Regions from separate parts of the Homo sapiens genome. Here region 1 is linked to region 2. Evidence: fine-mapped expression QTL. A gene starts in region 2. The other region holds a variant in brackets. All regions are shown on one strand. Distances are between the middles of the regions. Region 1 overlaps RFTN1 (raftlin, lipid raft linker 1). Region 2 holds the start of OXNAD1 (oxidoreductase NAD binding domain containing 1).

Region 1 (8,340 bases), 83 kb after region 2:
TCCCAGAATCAGGTCTCTTCAGGTCCACCACCTTCTAGATCACTGCACAAGCCCCTGAAAAAGATGTGAAACAGGCCAAGGCACAGGATGGCATCAGAAAGCTCATGAAGACAGACCTCCTCCCAATGAAAGCACATCGTTGCCAAGTGCGGCCTCTCAATCAGTTATACACCACCCATAGGCCCTTCCTTTTTATTTAGTTGTATTAAAAGCCTTGGCCAGGTGAATTTCAAAGAACATATTTCAAGGAGTGGTAGTGAGTGAACACATAACTACAAGAACACCCCCCAACCTTTTATGCTCACTGATTTAATATACTTCAGTTCTCTCTGGAGAACCATTTGCCCTCTCTTCATCTGTGGCTCTCAAACTATGCATTTTAAGCTCTTTTAGGGGGCCACATGGAAAGCATAAGAAATGGGGGCAGCCCCCAGGAGCAAGGACCAGCTCCTGGATAACTGCCTGCAAGAAAACAAGGACCTCAGACCTGCAACCACAAGGCCAACAACCTAAGTGAGCTTGGAAGTGGATTCTTCCCCACCAAAACCTCTAATAAGGCACACAGCTCTGCTGACATCCCATTTCAGTGTTTTGAGACCCTAAGCAGCAGACGACCCAGTTCAGCCCACCTGGATTTCTGGCCCACAGAAACTGTAAGATAATAAGTAGGTGGTTGTGTGTGTGTGTGTGTGTGTGTGTGTGTGTGTGTGTTTAAAGCTGTTATAGAATTATCTCCCACTTTTTTATCTCAAACACATTGGGAAAACCTAAAGATATAGCCCCTGTTATCACATTGAGCCCTTAACTTGCCACAGGATGCATAAACATTATTTTTGGGCATGTTGTGAGGGTGTTTCTGGAAAAGATTAGCATTTGAATGGGTCAACTGAGTAGACCAGATGGCCCTCCCCAGTGTGGGTGGACACCATCCAGTCATTGAGGACCTGAACAGAACAAAGGGTGGAGGAAGGCTGAATTAACACCGCCTGACTGCTTGAACAGGAACGTCCATCTTCTGCCCTTGTTGCTCCTGGTTCTCAGGGCTTGGGACCTGGACTGGAGTCCACACCATCAGCTGCTAGCTCTCAGGCCTCTGAACCATACCACTGGCTTTCCTGGGTCTCCAGCTTGCAGATAGCAGACTGTGGGACTCCTCAGCCTCCATAATCACATGAGCCAAAACCTTATAATAAATCTCTGTGTGTGTGTGTGTGTGTGTGTGTGTGTGCGCGCGCGCGTGCGCGCACGCGCACATGTGCATGTGTATGTGTATAATCTCCTACTGGTTCTGTTTTACTGGAGAACCCTAATACACTTCTTTCTTGTTGTTCTGTGGCATACACTGAATATTTTAAACCGCATTTGTCACAGGATTTTGAAAACGTGATCATTTGTTTCATCCTCTCTTCCTCTGCAGCAAGAATCAAAATTCACTTTGCCCCATGATCTTCACCAGAACGGCATACTTGCCTCTCCCCTCGTCAGATTGAAAAGGTTCCTATGATTTAGGGTCTTCCAGCACCCCTCAGGAAGCTTGACAATGAAGAGGAATTATTGATGAATGTGGAAAGGCCAGGGGGTGCACATTCATTTTTAATGACTACACACCTTCCCTTGACTAAATGGAATCAATCCTTCCTGCCTGAATTTCATCCATTCATCATGCTCTCACAGTGGCTGACACACAGTAGGAACTCAATATTTATTTGTTGGATAAATTTTTAAAAAGATATAACTTACTTGTATCACTAAATTTTGTATATGAAGTGAAATATGGCTGTCTGAGAAAATAGGACAATTGAGTTTATGGAAGAAAAAAGTGCAGATAAAGATTAAAGGTCAAATACTTCCTTTTGTCATCTCATTATCCAAACCGTCAACAAGTCCAGTCTTCTTGAAAATACCTCTAGGAGCATCCTGCCTTGCTAGTCCCCCTCAGTGGCACATTCTGTTGGCTGCCAAAGCCAACAGCCCCTCGATGGCCCAGGGCTTCTTCCTCACTGACACCCCCCAGGCCTGGACAACCATGACTCTTGACAAGTGGCATGGGTCTGTGACTCAGTCCTGGCCAATGAGACCTGAGGAAATCTCTGTTGTGGGTTTCTGGGAAAGCTTTTACTTGCTAATAAAAAGGGACGTGTGGCAGGAAAAAACTGCCCCGTTCTTCACGGTTGTCATCACATTTGCATGAGACACCTAGAATTGCCACAGTCACCTTGTGAGGAGGATCATAAGGAGAGCCCTGCAGACAGGCTGAGGATGAGTACAGAAAGATGGCAACATCTGGATCCCTGGTGGCATCTTTAAGCTGTTGACAAAGCTGACTCTGCAACCTCCCCACCTTGCTCTAGACTTCCTGCTCAATGAGATGAGATGAACACCCCTACGGCTTAAGCCACTTTTAGTTGGATTTCCTGCTATGAACGGTGGAAAGCAACCCAACTGATACCCATGACCACCACCCTTATTCTATTTCCCTGGGCTTCTGTTGGCCTTTCCCCCATTCTGGCCCTTTCTCCAGGGCCAATTGTCCCAGTGTACAGCTCTCTGATGAAAATCCCACTATGGCTCCCTTCAACCCATTGCAAAAATCCAGGCCCTTGCCTCACCCACACGGTCTTCCCCAGACTTTTCACATGCAAACATACTGTCAAGGACACCCTACAGGGCAACCCTGGAGAGACGTCCATGCATGTTATATCCATTTTCTAGGGGGGGCTATAACAAATGACCACAAAATTGGTGGATTACAACAATAGAAATTTCTCACAGTTCTGGAAGCCAGAAGTTCAAAATCAGTATCACTGGGTCAAAAGTCAAGGTTATAACAGGCCCATGCTCCTTTTGGAGGCTAGGGGGAGAATCCGCTCATTGTTTTTTTCCAGCACTAGTGGCTGCTGGCATTTCTTGTCTTGTGGCCTCACTACTCCAATCTTCAAAGCATTTTCAACTCTCTACTCTGCCTTCACCTCTATGTGTATAAAATCTCCCTCTGCCTCTCTGTTACACAGATGCATACCCACCTCTGTGTGCACACTCACCTCTGTGTGTACACCACCTCCTCTCTGGAAGGAGCTTTCTCTGTGAAAGGGGAACTAGGGAATTGAGGGTCAGAGGAGAGAGGAGGATTCAGTCTTTACTATATACACATTTGCACTGTAAGCATTTTGTTTAAAATTATTATAAAGCCTCCAATAACTTTTATCTCGATTTGCAATGTAATATTCCTCAATGGGACTTTTTTACACATGCTCTTAGGTCAGGTTCCCTATAAGGAGACCCTAAAACAAGTATTCACGTGCAAGTAACTTATTAAGGATGTGCTGCCAGTGAGGGAGCGGGAGAAGTCGTACAACAGAGTAGAAGCAGCCCAGGAAGGACACAATTTTAAGAACATCCCGTGACCAGCGGCTCAGTCTGATCCTGTGGGGAGCTCTGAGGGGTGAGTTATGCTCAGAGTTGTCCCCATCTGAGGCCAGGGAGCAGGGCTTTCATACACCCACACTCCTCTGTCATCGACGAGGACCACCTCGGAGCACTTGTGGCTCTTGTTGCTTAAAGCAGGGCAGGCTCCTGGAGCTCAGGAGCAGGGCTTTGCTAAGAGGCACAAGTGCTGCCTGTTTGAGGTGAAAGCATGATGGTAAAAAGGAAGCCGAGGCATCTAGATCACTGACATTATCCATAATCAGAGGCGTCTAGGAGATCACCCACATTATCTATTATTGAAGGCATCTAGGAGATCATCCACATTATCCAATATGTGTTCTAATTATAAAAAAAAATTAATAGATGTGCCTTCTCTTCCAGCTGGCCTCTGCTCCTGTCACTTCCCACAGCAGGAAGCCCCCACACTCAATTCCCTTAGCCCATCCAAGTCCTGGCTTGACTTGCCAATACCCAGCTGGAGCCCACTGTGTCCAGGAGGCCTTGTTCAGTCTCTGCTCTCTCCCAGGGCACTTCTGGTCAGCAGGGCACAATTAGCCTTGAATGCCTTCCCATTTCCTTTGTAGGATGTCTTCTTCCCGAGGCTCCTTGATGTGTGGGGCCTCAGCAAATGCCCCTTTGCATCCTTGTTCCTGGGCATCAAAAAGTAGTCACTCTCTTTGAGCCTATGGAGTTTCCCAGTTCCCTGAGGGTTCTGTTATGGAACCCCTAATCACCATCTCAAGTGGTTCTTTCTCATTTTTTATGTACTCTTTCATGGATTAAGTCCAGCCCACCTGCCCCACTGGGAAGCAGGAGGACTGGTTTTGGTCCAATAGCCCATCATCTCTGTGTCCTGCCACTGCCACAATCCACACACATTTCAGAACACCCGAGCAAGTGGCTGCTGCCAAGGAGGAGGCAGAGGGAAAATTCTGGCTAAAAGAGGTAAAAGAGGGACAGACAGCCATCCCAGGCTCCACTATCCAAGGACAGGGTCAAAGTTTCAGATCAGAAGTCAGGACTCAATAATCAGATCATGGCCTTTTGGGGTCACTATTTCTAAATGTAATCTCTTCCCCATCATTATGGGAAGGGAAATGACTTACCTGGGCAACACAAACTGTATAAACTAAGCTTTTCTCTGTGACGTTCCTAACAGCAGAAGAGTACTAGCGGCCATCTCCAGAGACAAGAAGAAAAAGAATTTCAGAGGCTCAGAGGAAAGTTCAATATGGCCCCATGGCAAGAAATACAGGCATGCTGGCTCCAGGTGGACTTGTCACCCTAAGATAAAAGTTGGAGGCAACTAAGGAAAACCACTGTGGCTGT[A/C]GAGATGGATGAGTGTGAATTTATAAGGACAGAAGGGGGTACCTGAGCCTCCAGGGATGGTGACAAAAGTAAGGCAAACCCAAAAGAGGAGGAATGTTGAGCCTGGAATGAGCTGAGGTGTGCAGGTGGCGTGAGGTATACACACATGCACCTCAGCCTAGAATGAGATGAGGTATGTGAACTACGTATGTGCATGTGTGCACACGTATACACATACGCCATTTAAAATCATGCTCAAAGCAAGAAGTTGCACAAGAAAAGGGTATGTTCAAGACAATAAAAATGGGATTATTCAACTCCTATTTTACTTGCTTTTCTACAAGGAGACAAATTTGGCTAAAGTCTAAGAGACTGTGAAGTTTTCTCCCCATTAATGGCATCACAGCATTTGTATCTGATTCATCAGGATTCTCCTGAGAAAGAGAATCAGTAGGCTATCTTGTATCTAGAAAGATTCATTTTGAGGAACTGGCTTACATGACTGTGGAGGATGTAAAATCCAAAGTTTGCAGGGTAGCCCAGCAGGCTGGATATTCCAGCAGGAGTCGATGTTGCAGTTTTGAGTCTGCAGGCTGAATTCCTTCCTCTTCCGGGATCTCAATCTTTTTTCTTAAGGCCTTCAACTGATTGAAGTCCACTCACATTAGGAAGGGTAATGTGCTTTACTCTTCTACTGAGTGGAATGTTAATCACATCTAAAAATACTTTCATAGCAACATCTAGATTGGTGTTTGATCAAGTAAGTGAGTACTATAGCCCAACAAAGCTGACATAAAATTAACCATCACAGGACAATTCTGCAACTTAATTTTCTCGTTTAACATTTCCTGTAATTCCTTCCATGTCAGCTTATACAGAATGACCTCATCTATAATAAGAATATATTATCCTTTGTTTAACCATTCCCCTACTGATGGACATGAACATTATTACCTTTTTTGATATTACAAGTAATGCTGAGATAATATCCTTGTCTATGCCTTCTTGTGAACACATGCATTTGTTTCTTTAGAAGAGATGGACATGAAGTATGAAATTGCTGAGTCATGGATGGGCGTGGGCATTTCAAATTGTTAACAGATGTTAGCAGTTTGCCCTCTGAAGCAAACTTGAAAATTTTAAATGAGCTCAAGCTGAGATGAATCACTTTTTTTTTTTTTTTAAAGGAAAAGGCACTCATCCATACATACTATTCTGTAAACAGGTGTGTAACTGTCAAGGTGAGTGGCACACAAGAATTTGATAAAAGTCAAAGTACTGAAGGCGCTGCTAAAGTAGATCTGAGGCTATTCTGACTTCCTCGTTACTCACCTGTGCTATGATTTGCTTTGCAGTGGGAAAGGATGGAGATGCAGCCTGGGAGGGGTTTGGGTGTTGATTCCTGGGCCTTTCATGGGAGTGATTATTCACAGGAAAATCATCCCTATCACAGGAAAAAGGCAGAGAACTGCTGTCTTTGGCACTAAAGACTATGATCTCAGAACCAAAGTAATTATCTTGGAGAAACTGTGGCAATAGAAGAAAAAAGCCAGATGGTTTAAAAAGAACAAATATTGGCTCCCTTGTGAATTCTAGAAACCATAGAAATTGATGTTACTCCCTGGCAAATCCTAGAGTGGATTCTTAAAGAGATGGTTGGGAGCCTTTGAAAGCAAAAGCTTGAGCCCCAGAAACCTGCAGAACTTCATGAAGAACAAGTGAGACCTAATGTGTTATTACACAGGATTCACAGGATTATGAGACAGGGTTACAGGCCAGAGTAGGTTTCAGTTACAGAAAAGTGTGTCATCGAGCCTTTCATGTAAATACAATAGAGGAATGGAAGATGGAACAACAGGGCCACCTGAATCCACTGCAGAATGGTTTGGGTTAGTGTCAGGCACTGGTGGAGAGATTCCTGCAGCGCGCCAAGGACTGTGTCCTTGATCCAGTCTGTTTGCCATTGAGACCAGTCAGGAGCCTCCATACATATGAAGCCTTCAGGGAAGCCAAGGCTGGAAGATCCCCAGAATGAAGGATGATATATCCATGATCAGAAATGTCTTGACAGGCTGGGGAAATGGGCAGAAGCGAATAGTATGAAATAAAATGGGGGTTAACTCAACAAAAGATTGAATACGCAGGCAGAGAGTGGAGAAGAGCTGACTCCAGAGCCTCATGACAAAGTCTGCGGGGTTGCAGAGGCTGTAATGATACCCTAAGCCATTCTACCTGAGGCTGTACTTGCAGAAATACAAGTCCACCCTGACAGAAGTCAAGTCCTCGCAGGTAGCAGCTGCTTTCTAGGATGCTCATGCCCTTCTGACCTCACCAACTGAGCACTTCAGGGGTAAGCTGTATATAAGTTAGACCCATTATCCTAATTACATGTCTTAATTTAAATGATTTAAAAGCATATAAACTATAAGTGCAAAAACAAGTTGTTTCTCAAAAAACTAAGTTGAATTCCTTGAATAGACTCAGCAAAGAACAATCACTAAAAAGTAACAACTGGCTGAATTAGGGGTGTGTTGGGTGAGGGGACTAGAAAGACTAGAAAAAAAAATCATGAAAACATGGATTCTGCAGTCAGATTCCATTGATATTTTAAAGAAACTGACACTGGGCATTGTAGCCAGCACACTTTGGGTGTGGTTTATATGAGAAAGATGAGGCAGAACTCTACTTCAGCAGACACTCAACTCAAAAAGACTGGCAAATGGACATGTATTTACATACTTTACATTCAAATAAAATGTGTAAGATAGGAATCTGATTTGCTTTGGGTCTCTTTAATTGGCTTTTTCAATTAACCCACCAGCCACCATACCAATTGCATCAGCTGTAAGTGCTTTTTCTACTCTCTTATGTTCCATTCTGGCACCAAATTTCACGATAAGCACTGATATGCTAGAACATATTCCAGGGAGAGGGATAAACATGGAAAAGGCTCTATGGCTCAGGTAGCACCTGGTGGTGTCTATAAGCTCTGATGGGCTGTCAGGCTCAAAGATAAACAGATTCAGAGGGAAGAAGAGGGTCTCTGTATCTTGCTCTTTACCTATTCATCTATGTAGTTTTTTCCTTTCCTTTCCAAGAATTACCCTTTCTGCTCACATACTAGACTGTAAACTCAAAGAAAGTAAACAAAATACCTGTTATAAATGCCCTATGGATAGACATTTATCTTACAAATGCCTTTAATTTTAGGCTGTAGGTTTCCAACCGAGCAAAATGCAATTATTTGTATTTGACTCTACAGGTTCCCTAGCCCAACCTCCTCTGTGCTTTTAGCATAAAACGAAGGCAATGGGGGGAGGATCTGTCTCACTGATGATACCAGGTGACTGACACAGAAAGCAGTATGTAGTGAGGGCTTACTATGTGCCCAGTCCTACATTCACAACTTTTTAATATATTTTCTCTTTTAATTCTCATCAATTTTGAGAGGTTGTTACCAGTATCCCCATTTATACAACTGAAAATAGAAAAAGCAGGTGTGGTTTACTTTTCACATAGTCTGTCACTCAGCTTGGAATCAGAGAGGCAGGATGCACACTCAGGCCAGACTCTGGAATCTCCGCTGTCTTGCCAACGTGCTGCACT
Region 2 (8,340 bases):
GCCTCCATTCTCCTTTCCTGTCTAAAACCCATCAGTTTAGAATCTTATGTCTTGAGACTACCGCCTTGCTATTCTTCTCTGTTGCTGTCATTTATCCACCCTGGATGCCATATTCCAACCCCTCTGGACCTCCACCATATTCATCCTACCACCCTTTCACTGCCCCTCACTCCCTTCATGTTCTCTTTACCTAGTTCAAACTCCATGGTCAGTTATAACCACTCTTCTCTCACTCCTTACTATTCACTTGGGAAAACCTTAAACCTGGTTAAATCTAACTTTCCATGTCTATATTCACTAATGAAGGCTGAATTTCTACCACCTTAAACCCTCTCTTGATCCTCTATCACCACTGGTTACTGTCCCATGTCTGTGCTCTCCTTTGCAGCAAACTCCTTAAAAGAAATGCCTATACTCACTGCCTTCTGTTCTCTCATTCTCTCCAACCAGTATTCTGCCCATTGGTTTCTTCACTCATGCGCTGTTCCTGTTACTCCATGGAAACTGCTCTCATCTCCGTCACAGATGAACTCAGTGTTGCTAAAGCTAATGGTTAATTCTTGATTGCTTCCTATCAGTGTCACGTGACAAGGATCACCACTTCCTCAATCCTTTCTCATCTGGTTTCCAGGATTTGACACTGCTGATTTTCCTCCTTTCTCAGTGGTTTCTCCTTTACCATCAGCTTTGGTGATTCCTCGCTTCCCTCCCTGACTTTTTAATACTGTAGTGCCTTAAGGCTCAGTCCTGTATTTTATCCATCTCTACATTCACAGACCTGGTGGTCTCATCCAATCTCATGGCTCTAAATGCTATCTGTTACTGATAACTCCCAAATTGACATTGCTAGCCAATCTCTCTCATGAACGCCAGACATGCATATCCAATTGCCTTCTCAACAGCTCAACTTGGATGACAGACCTCTCACTTAGTATGTACAATTTCAACCCCTATACCTATAGTTACATTCCCTCAATTGACAGTAACTCCATCCTCCCAGTTATTAAGGTCACAAATATTGAAATCATCCTTGTCTCACTCCTTCACACCCTATATCCAATCAGTTATTCAAAGCGTATCCAGAATCTAAGTACTTCTCATTATTTCCATTGCTGTAACCAGGTCCAAGCCACCCATCTCCTTCTTTAATTAGTGTAATAGCCTCCTATTACACTGGTTTTCCTGTTTCTATGCTTGCTCTCTATAGGCTACTCTGAACACAGCAGCCAGAATCATTTTTTAAAAAACTTAAGTTGGATCATAGCACTCCTATGTTCAAAAATCCCCCAATGGTTCCCTATATCACTCACAACAAGAGCCTAAGTCCTTAAAGTGATCCACAACTTCTTACGCTACTCTCATCCTGCTCTGCTCTGGTCACACTGGCCTCCTTTTTGTTCCTTGATAAAATCAGGCATGTTCCTGTCTTAGGTCCCCTTCACTGAACGATCCTTTGCTCGACTCTCTTACCTCATACCCTCATATGTACATGGCTCACTCCCTCACCTCCTTCAAATCTTTACCTATTAAGGCCTTTCTCAGTAAGGCCTGCCATGATCACCCTATGGAAAACTGCAACTTCCTCCCAGACCAGCACTCCTGATCTTCCTTACCGTTTGCTTTCTGTTGCAGAGCACATTTTAATACAAGAATGAATCATTATATTTCTAAATTATAGTCTAAATTATAGCCCGCTTCTCTCATGAGGCTCTGTGCCTCATCCCCACTTTCCCTATATTCATTTTGGACTTCATCCTTGAGAGTGTTAAGGTCCTTACCTAAGATTCCATTCCAAGTACTGAACAAAACTTTGGGTAGGAGTGGGCAGTAATAACATTTTTTTTTTCTATTGTCAACATCCTTGGGTGAAAGATAATAGGGCAACTAAAGACTAAAATGAAATTGTAAAGCTGCACCTAGGAATTATATCTCAAACAAGATAATGCAGAATTCTGTGTATAAGCCAGCACGAAATACCATACAATTGTTCCCTTCAAAGTAAGTCTAGCAGCTCTAAACAATTTTAATTACATATTAAATAGAAGAGAAATATAAAAAATTGTCCACTAAAATAATCTATATACTTTCTATTTAATAAATAATAATTTTCACTAAAGCTAGATTTATCTCTAAAGCTAAAATAAATTACGTAATCTGAACTTTAAACGTTTTAATTTACTATTCGGCTGTTTATCAATGGTGTTTAAAACCTGCCTAAAAAAATACCGCACTTTACCTAGCACAATGAAACATTCTCCTGCACTCATCACTGACAAGCTGATCTAAGTCCTTGCCACTGACTTACAATACCCTTCCCCCGTTTTAAAATTATATCCCTTACTTTGTCATAAATCACTTTTATAATGAGAGAGCAGCTAGGACACGTTGCCACGTCTTCCCCATTCTCCAAATCTTCCTACAACGAAATCAAATACCATGTGGTCAGGATAGCTTCTCTTCGCCATCTCCTCCCCCAAACCTATCCCACCCCTAGATGCAAGTCTCTTGGTGGCTTGCCTTCCCCCCAAGGTGGGTGAGAACCCCAGGGCCTTCAGCGAGAAATGCCGACATCATTTTCCCCTAGAAGCGTCACTTAGGGGAAACACCTAGGAAGGTCAGGCGAGCTTCGGTCGCCCCAAAAGCCCTGGGAAACAAAAAACGAGTCCCCTCCTCGACAGAAATATCCCAGGTTGGGACCCTAAGGCAGGGATCGGGCAGAGAGACAGAGGCTCTCCGCCACCCTCTCCCTGACCTAATCTAAGGCCAGAACTGCGTGCCTACCGAGAGAGCTCAGGGCATTAGTTGGGGTGGGGGGACGCGGGAGGAGGAAGATTCAGCAACGGGAAAGAGGGCGTGGGTGACACAGCGCAGCAAAGGCTACCCAATGATGGAAGGAACGGGCGGAACCAAACTGCGCTTGCTTGGGTGAACCGCCGGGCGGGACCCTGAAGTTACCTTGGTGATGGAGAAGTTATCTCCACATGGGCAGGGATAGAAATACGTCTCCGAGTCCTCGTCATATTGGAAGTCCTCGATTTCCACCTCGTCATGAAACACTGCCATGGTCAGCGGGGGTGGCCGAAGGGGTAACGCCCCAGCAGTCCGAGGCCAGCTCCGAGGGTTTAACTTCGCCGGAACCGGCCTGGGCTCGGCATCATCAGGTCGCGCCGGGCAAGGACTAGCCCTTCCGGCGCATAGGCAATGACGCAACTCCGCCCTGCGCGGCCAAATGGATAACCGGTAGCGGTCACCATGGAGATGGCTGAACTAGGGGCGGAGACACTGGGAAGACTGAAAGCTTGCTCAGCGGGGTCGCGCACCGCTCCTCCTATTGGGCGGCAGCGACCAATAGAATGTGGGGCTCGCCCGCGCTGCTACGTCACGTCTGGGACCGCGGAGTATTCCAGGCGCCTGCAACTAAACGTGGCCGGGTCTGCAAGCTAGGTGCCAGCGGGGAAAGTTTCCCTGCTTCTTATCGTCTGCTTTAACGCCTTAAATAGCCCGCTGAAGGCTGCAGCAGGTGCTAGGTAGCAGCCTCCCGGCCCTCGGGAAAGGCGGGGTGGGGAGGCGAGAGCAGCTTAGCCTCCTCGACCTCCCTTCCTGGTGACGGACGAACAGTTCCCGTAGAATTTCGCTTCACCGAGTGACCTTGAGCCCAGGGCGACGGTCAGCTTGTTAATTCCTGGCTGCAGGTACATTCCGCTTCTTCCTCACCCCAGACGCCTTAAAATACCCTAAATTGTGTTGCTGAAAGGACCAAGCCCTGGAAGGCAGGGATTGAGTTCTAGTCTTCTGTTTGCCAGGCTTATAACATTATTAACGACGATGATTTTTAGTAATAGTAATAACATCACCTTTTATTATTGGGAAGTTATGTGCCAGCTATTGCACTAAGTGGAATTGTCAACTCTAGGAGTTTACATGTTATTCCATTTTATTAATCTTTAAACTGAGGTACAGAGAGTTGGGCATCTTGACTAAAATCATACACCTGGGAAATAATGAAGAGCTTGTCTGTCTCCAAAGCCCAGGAACAAATTACTTATGTGAGTACCAGTTTTTTCGTTGTGAAAGAAATGGTGTCAGTAGGCAGGTTTATCAGTGTGAGGCCTATGTATGCCTTGAAGCGAAATGCAGATAAAAGGCATTTTTGTCTTGAAAGCAGTGCTAGTGCCTGTTTTGGTAAAACCGATTACATTGGGTCTTACTTAATTACTAGGCATTTTAATATCTTAGTAGAGAAGAAATGCATTGTAGTGAAAAAGCACTTTCGAGAGAAGATCTGGGATCGGAATCTTGAGTTGTTGATTACCTCTGGCAACTGGATATTTACATTCTTTGGGCCTTATTTCCTCTTCTAAGAAAGGATTGGAGTAGAGATGATATAAGATCCTTTTTAGATGTAATGTTCCACTTTTGCACGGAAATTATGAGCTTTACTTGGTTCAGCAATGATATATAACATTTAGTTTACATTTACGTAACACATATACATAATATATCCCTGTGCACTTTTGAAGAAAACATTACAATGACTACTAAACTTTACATTTATTCCTAAAAGGGCGGATCACGAGGTCAGGAATACGAGACCAGCCTGACCAACATGATGAAGCCCCGTCTTTACTAAAAAATACACAAATTAGCCAGGTGTGGTGGTGTGCCTGTAATCCCAGCCACTCAGGAGGCTGAGGCAGGAGAATCTCTTGAACCTGGAAGGCAGAGATTGCAGTGAGCTGAGATCACGCCACTGCACTCCAGCCTGGGCGACAGAGCTAGACGCTGTCTCAAAAAAAAAAAAAAAAAAAAAAAAGAAGTAGGTCATAATTGTATAATGCAAACTATATTTGATGAGTGCTGTTGTATATCAGGCCAGAAGGAGTTGTTTATTGGCAATACCAAACCTCCACCTCTCTAGGTTGTTTGACAAGGAAGAGAAGGGGTCAATGTATTAGGATTGATTTTAGTAACACTGTTGCTTGCCAGGTACTTTGGTAGACATTTTATTTATTCCTCTCAGTAATCCAGTGAGGTGGCGTGGGTAATGTTAAAATGGCAAGAGGAGACTTGCTGAAGATTAGAAAGCAGGAAGGAGTCACACCTGAGCCCAGTTCCGCTGATTTCCGGTCAAATACTCTGTGTATACTACTTGTTTACCACTAAGGTGTCTTTGCCTGTTGGAGCAAGAGGAGCCCTTTTTCTTCCTCAGTGACACCTAAGATTCTAAATTGACAGATGTCATGATTGTTCTTTGAACTTACTTAATTTCAGTGCATTTATGCTTATTGAGGCATTCTTGGCTTTTCTCTGTCAGTGTCCTCTCACACCCTGCCTAATGTATCAGCAAGTTTTGGGGCTCTAATTCCAAAATATATGTCATGTTCATCTACTTCTGCCATCTCTGTAGCTGTTACCTTATTATAATCTTAGACCAGAGTCTTTTAACTGGGTTTCCTGCTTCCACTCCTGCCCCTCTCCCTCTGTTATCCTTCCCACAGCAACTTGAGCAGTCCTTTAAAAATATAAATTAGGTCTTGTCCTTCTCCTGATTGATTCAGACTTTTCAGTTGCTTCCCATTACCCTTAGGATAAAATTCTTACCCTTACTATAGACTGCTGGACTTCATCTCATTTCACTCTTACCAGCTTACTGCTCTCCAGTCACACTGGCCTTGGTTCCTTTAACATGCCGGGCTTATTTCTGTGTTGGACCTTTGCTCTTGCTAGTCCTTCTGCCAGAGTTGTCTGCCTTTAACATTTGCTTGGCCGCCTTTTCCTCATCATTCAGATCTCAGCCAAGGTGTCATCACTGGAGAGATGTCTTTCTTGATATTTCCCCCACCTACCCCATCACTCTTACTCCCTTTATCATACTCATCATAATCTATAATTATCTTGTTATTTGTTTACTACTATCTGTCTCTGGAACTGTAATAAAAGCTTCATGATGGCAAGGGCCTTGCGTCTGGTTCTTTATTATATCTCCAAGGCCTAAAATAGTGCCTGGCACCCCTGTAGTTGTTGAATGAACTGAGTATACCTGTTGAACTGAAACCATATAATTAATCTTAAATGTTAAATTTAATCTGTTGCTTTCAGAAGTTTGTTTTACTACATATTTAATGGGTGTCAGTTTTATTTAGCACTTATTATACTTTTCTGCATTTCAGAAATAAAGTTAATTAAGATTTTTTGGTAAGGGAAGGCCTGTGAGGATACAGACATTGATGGGATGGTCTACTTTATATGGTTTTAGAAATAACTTGATATATATTGATCTGCTGTGGTTGATTAAATGCTTACAGTATGGAACCGCCGGACATATTTCAAAAAATTAGTAGGTTTTAAATTTTTTATATTTTATTTAAAGGACTGGCATAAAGCTTTGGAAAGCACTTTAAACAGAATTTTATAAAAATGTCCTTTATTTACCAGTAGGTGGCACTCTTGGTCATGGTTACTTTCACAAAATAAAATCTTAGGATTTTAAAGAGAACTCCTTTTTTTTTTTTTTTTTTTTTTTTTTTTTTTTTGAGACTGAGTTTCGCTCTTGTTGCCCAGGCTGGAGTGTAATGGCATGATCTTGGCCCACTGCAACCTCCGCCTCCCAGGTTCAAGCGATTCTCTTGCCTCAGCCTCCTTAGTAACTGGGATTATAGGCGCCCGACACCACACCTAGCTAATTTTTTGTATTTTTAGTAGAGATGGGGTTTCACCATGTTGACCAGGCTGGTCTCAAACTCCTGACCTCAGGCGATCTACCCACCTCATCCTCCCAAAGTGCTGGGATTACAGATATGAGCCACTGTGCCCGGGAAGAACTACTTTTAAAATTAACATTTGTTTTCCAGTTCAGTTGAGAAGGGGACCATTCAAACAGCATAATCATTAAATGATGTATCCTATTGTGAGGACAACTTATTTTAGCAATAGTTGTCTAAAACATTGAACAGAACAGTATTTCCATATTTAACAATATAGTGGTTAAATTTTATCAGGGAACTTGGCCTTAAATGACATGTAACTGTGTCATTCTAGCCTTTGGTCTGCTGTTTCCTGGGGTGGATATCCTAAGTAGCAGGTGTTAAAGACAGGCAAGGAAGATGAACAAAATAAGCTGTAAGATAAATAATCAAAAAAGAAAAATGGAAGCATGGAGGAAAGAATGGATGGAGAGGGGGTAATTGAGAGTGGGCTTGTTGTGAGGTGATGCCTACTGATTTTAATGAGCCTTTCCTTTGGCAGCTAAGAGGTAATAGTGCTTTTGATCAGTTCCCCAAAACATTGTTATATGTTGTTTGTGCCATTGCAGGAACTTTGTGAGAATTTTAATGCATGGAAAAGCTGTCCATGTTCCAACTGCTGTACATCCAAAAGTCTCAGTGTAATAGCAGGACCAAAATATTCTGTCAATCAGCTGACCATATACTTAATGACTCCTAAAATCTCGTGGACTTCTAAGGTAAGTTTCAACTTCTTTCTTTCAGGGATTAAGGTAACATTATTGACTTAGAACATTTAATGGAGAAAAACTACGTTTAGTGGTCTTGAATGAGGTTGAAGAGGCCTTCTGCTTTTTTCATTTAGTAAAGAGAAAAATAGCAAGTAGCATGCTTATCCGCAATGATGCTGCAACATACTATGACAAGAAGAAATATATCGTTTATCTAAAGACTAGTTATGAAGCAGTGAGCTTTTTAATATGATTTGGGTATAACCAAATAAACTGCATATGACTTATATCACCATCAGATTTATTTATTTTTATTTATTTTCTGTCTTCATCTATTGGAATGCAAGCTCTCTAAGAGAGTTTTTGTTTTCTTCATGCCTAAAGCACCATTGCTTAGGCCAGTGCCTGCCACATAGTGGACTCTTGATAGATACTCGTTGAATGAAGGACCAAATTAATGAATATGGAGTAGGAATGTAAACACTTAGCTTGAATATTTTGCTAACAGCAATTTATCACAATTAATTTATATACTGCCTCCCAAAAAGCTCAGAAAAAAAAGTATTCACATGCATTTTCATTTATTCTCAAGGTAACTAAGATGGACAAATAGAGCAATGTAACATGTTAAATGTGGCCATTTTAGACAAAGAAATGTTTAAAAATTGACATAGGAAAATGATGGAAAAGGAACCAAAAAGAAATATCATCTGACTCCTAATCAGTGCTTTTCTTGACAGGCTGGTAGTTTTTAGAATTTGAAATGTTGAAGAATCTGTGTGTGTGTTTAACTTTTTGTTGAAGTTCAAGTACAAACAGAAAACTACACAGATCCTAAGAGGACAGCTTAATCAGTTTTTACAAAAAGTGAAAATACCCATGCAATC

The links. PIP is the estimated chance that this variant, and not a neighbour inherited with it, causes the effect.
Region 1: its variant is fine-mapped to the expression of OXNAD1 in whole blood (TOPMed, PIP 0.99).

What each region holds. Positions count from the first base shown.
Region 1 is chr3:16,344,591-16,352,930 of GRCh38, forward strand. The region is part of intron 7 of RFTN1 (raftlin, lipid raft linker 1); the gene reads right to left. It also overlaps a transcript of OXNAD1 not described here. Among named protein-coding and RNA genes, the nearest start is that of OXNAD1, 84 kb to the left of the region's middle. The variant A/C (reference allele first, on the strand shown) is at 4,756.
Region 2 is chr3:16,261,814-16,270,153 of GRCh38, forward strand. It overlaps OXNAD1 (oxidoreductase NAD binding domain containing 1), which reads left to right and starts at 3,399. Exons shown (of 9, transcript NM_138381.5): 1 at 3,399-3,692; 2 at 7,313-7,462. DPH3 (diphthamide biosynthesis 3) reads right to left here and starts at 3,130. Exons shown (of 3, transcript NM_206831.3): 1 at 2,956-3,130; 2 at 2,342-2,416. The coding sequence starts at 3,063. RefSeq lists an enhancer at 2,962-3,271.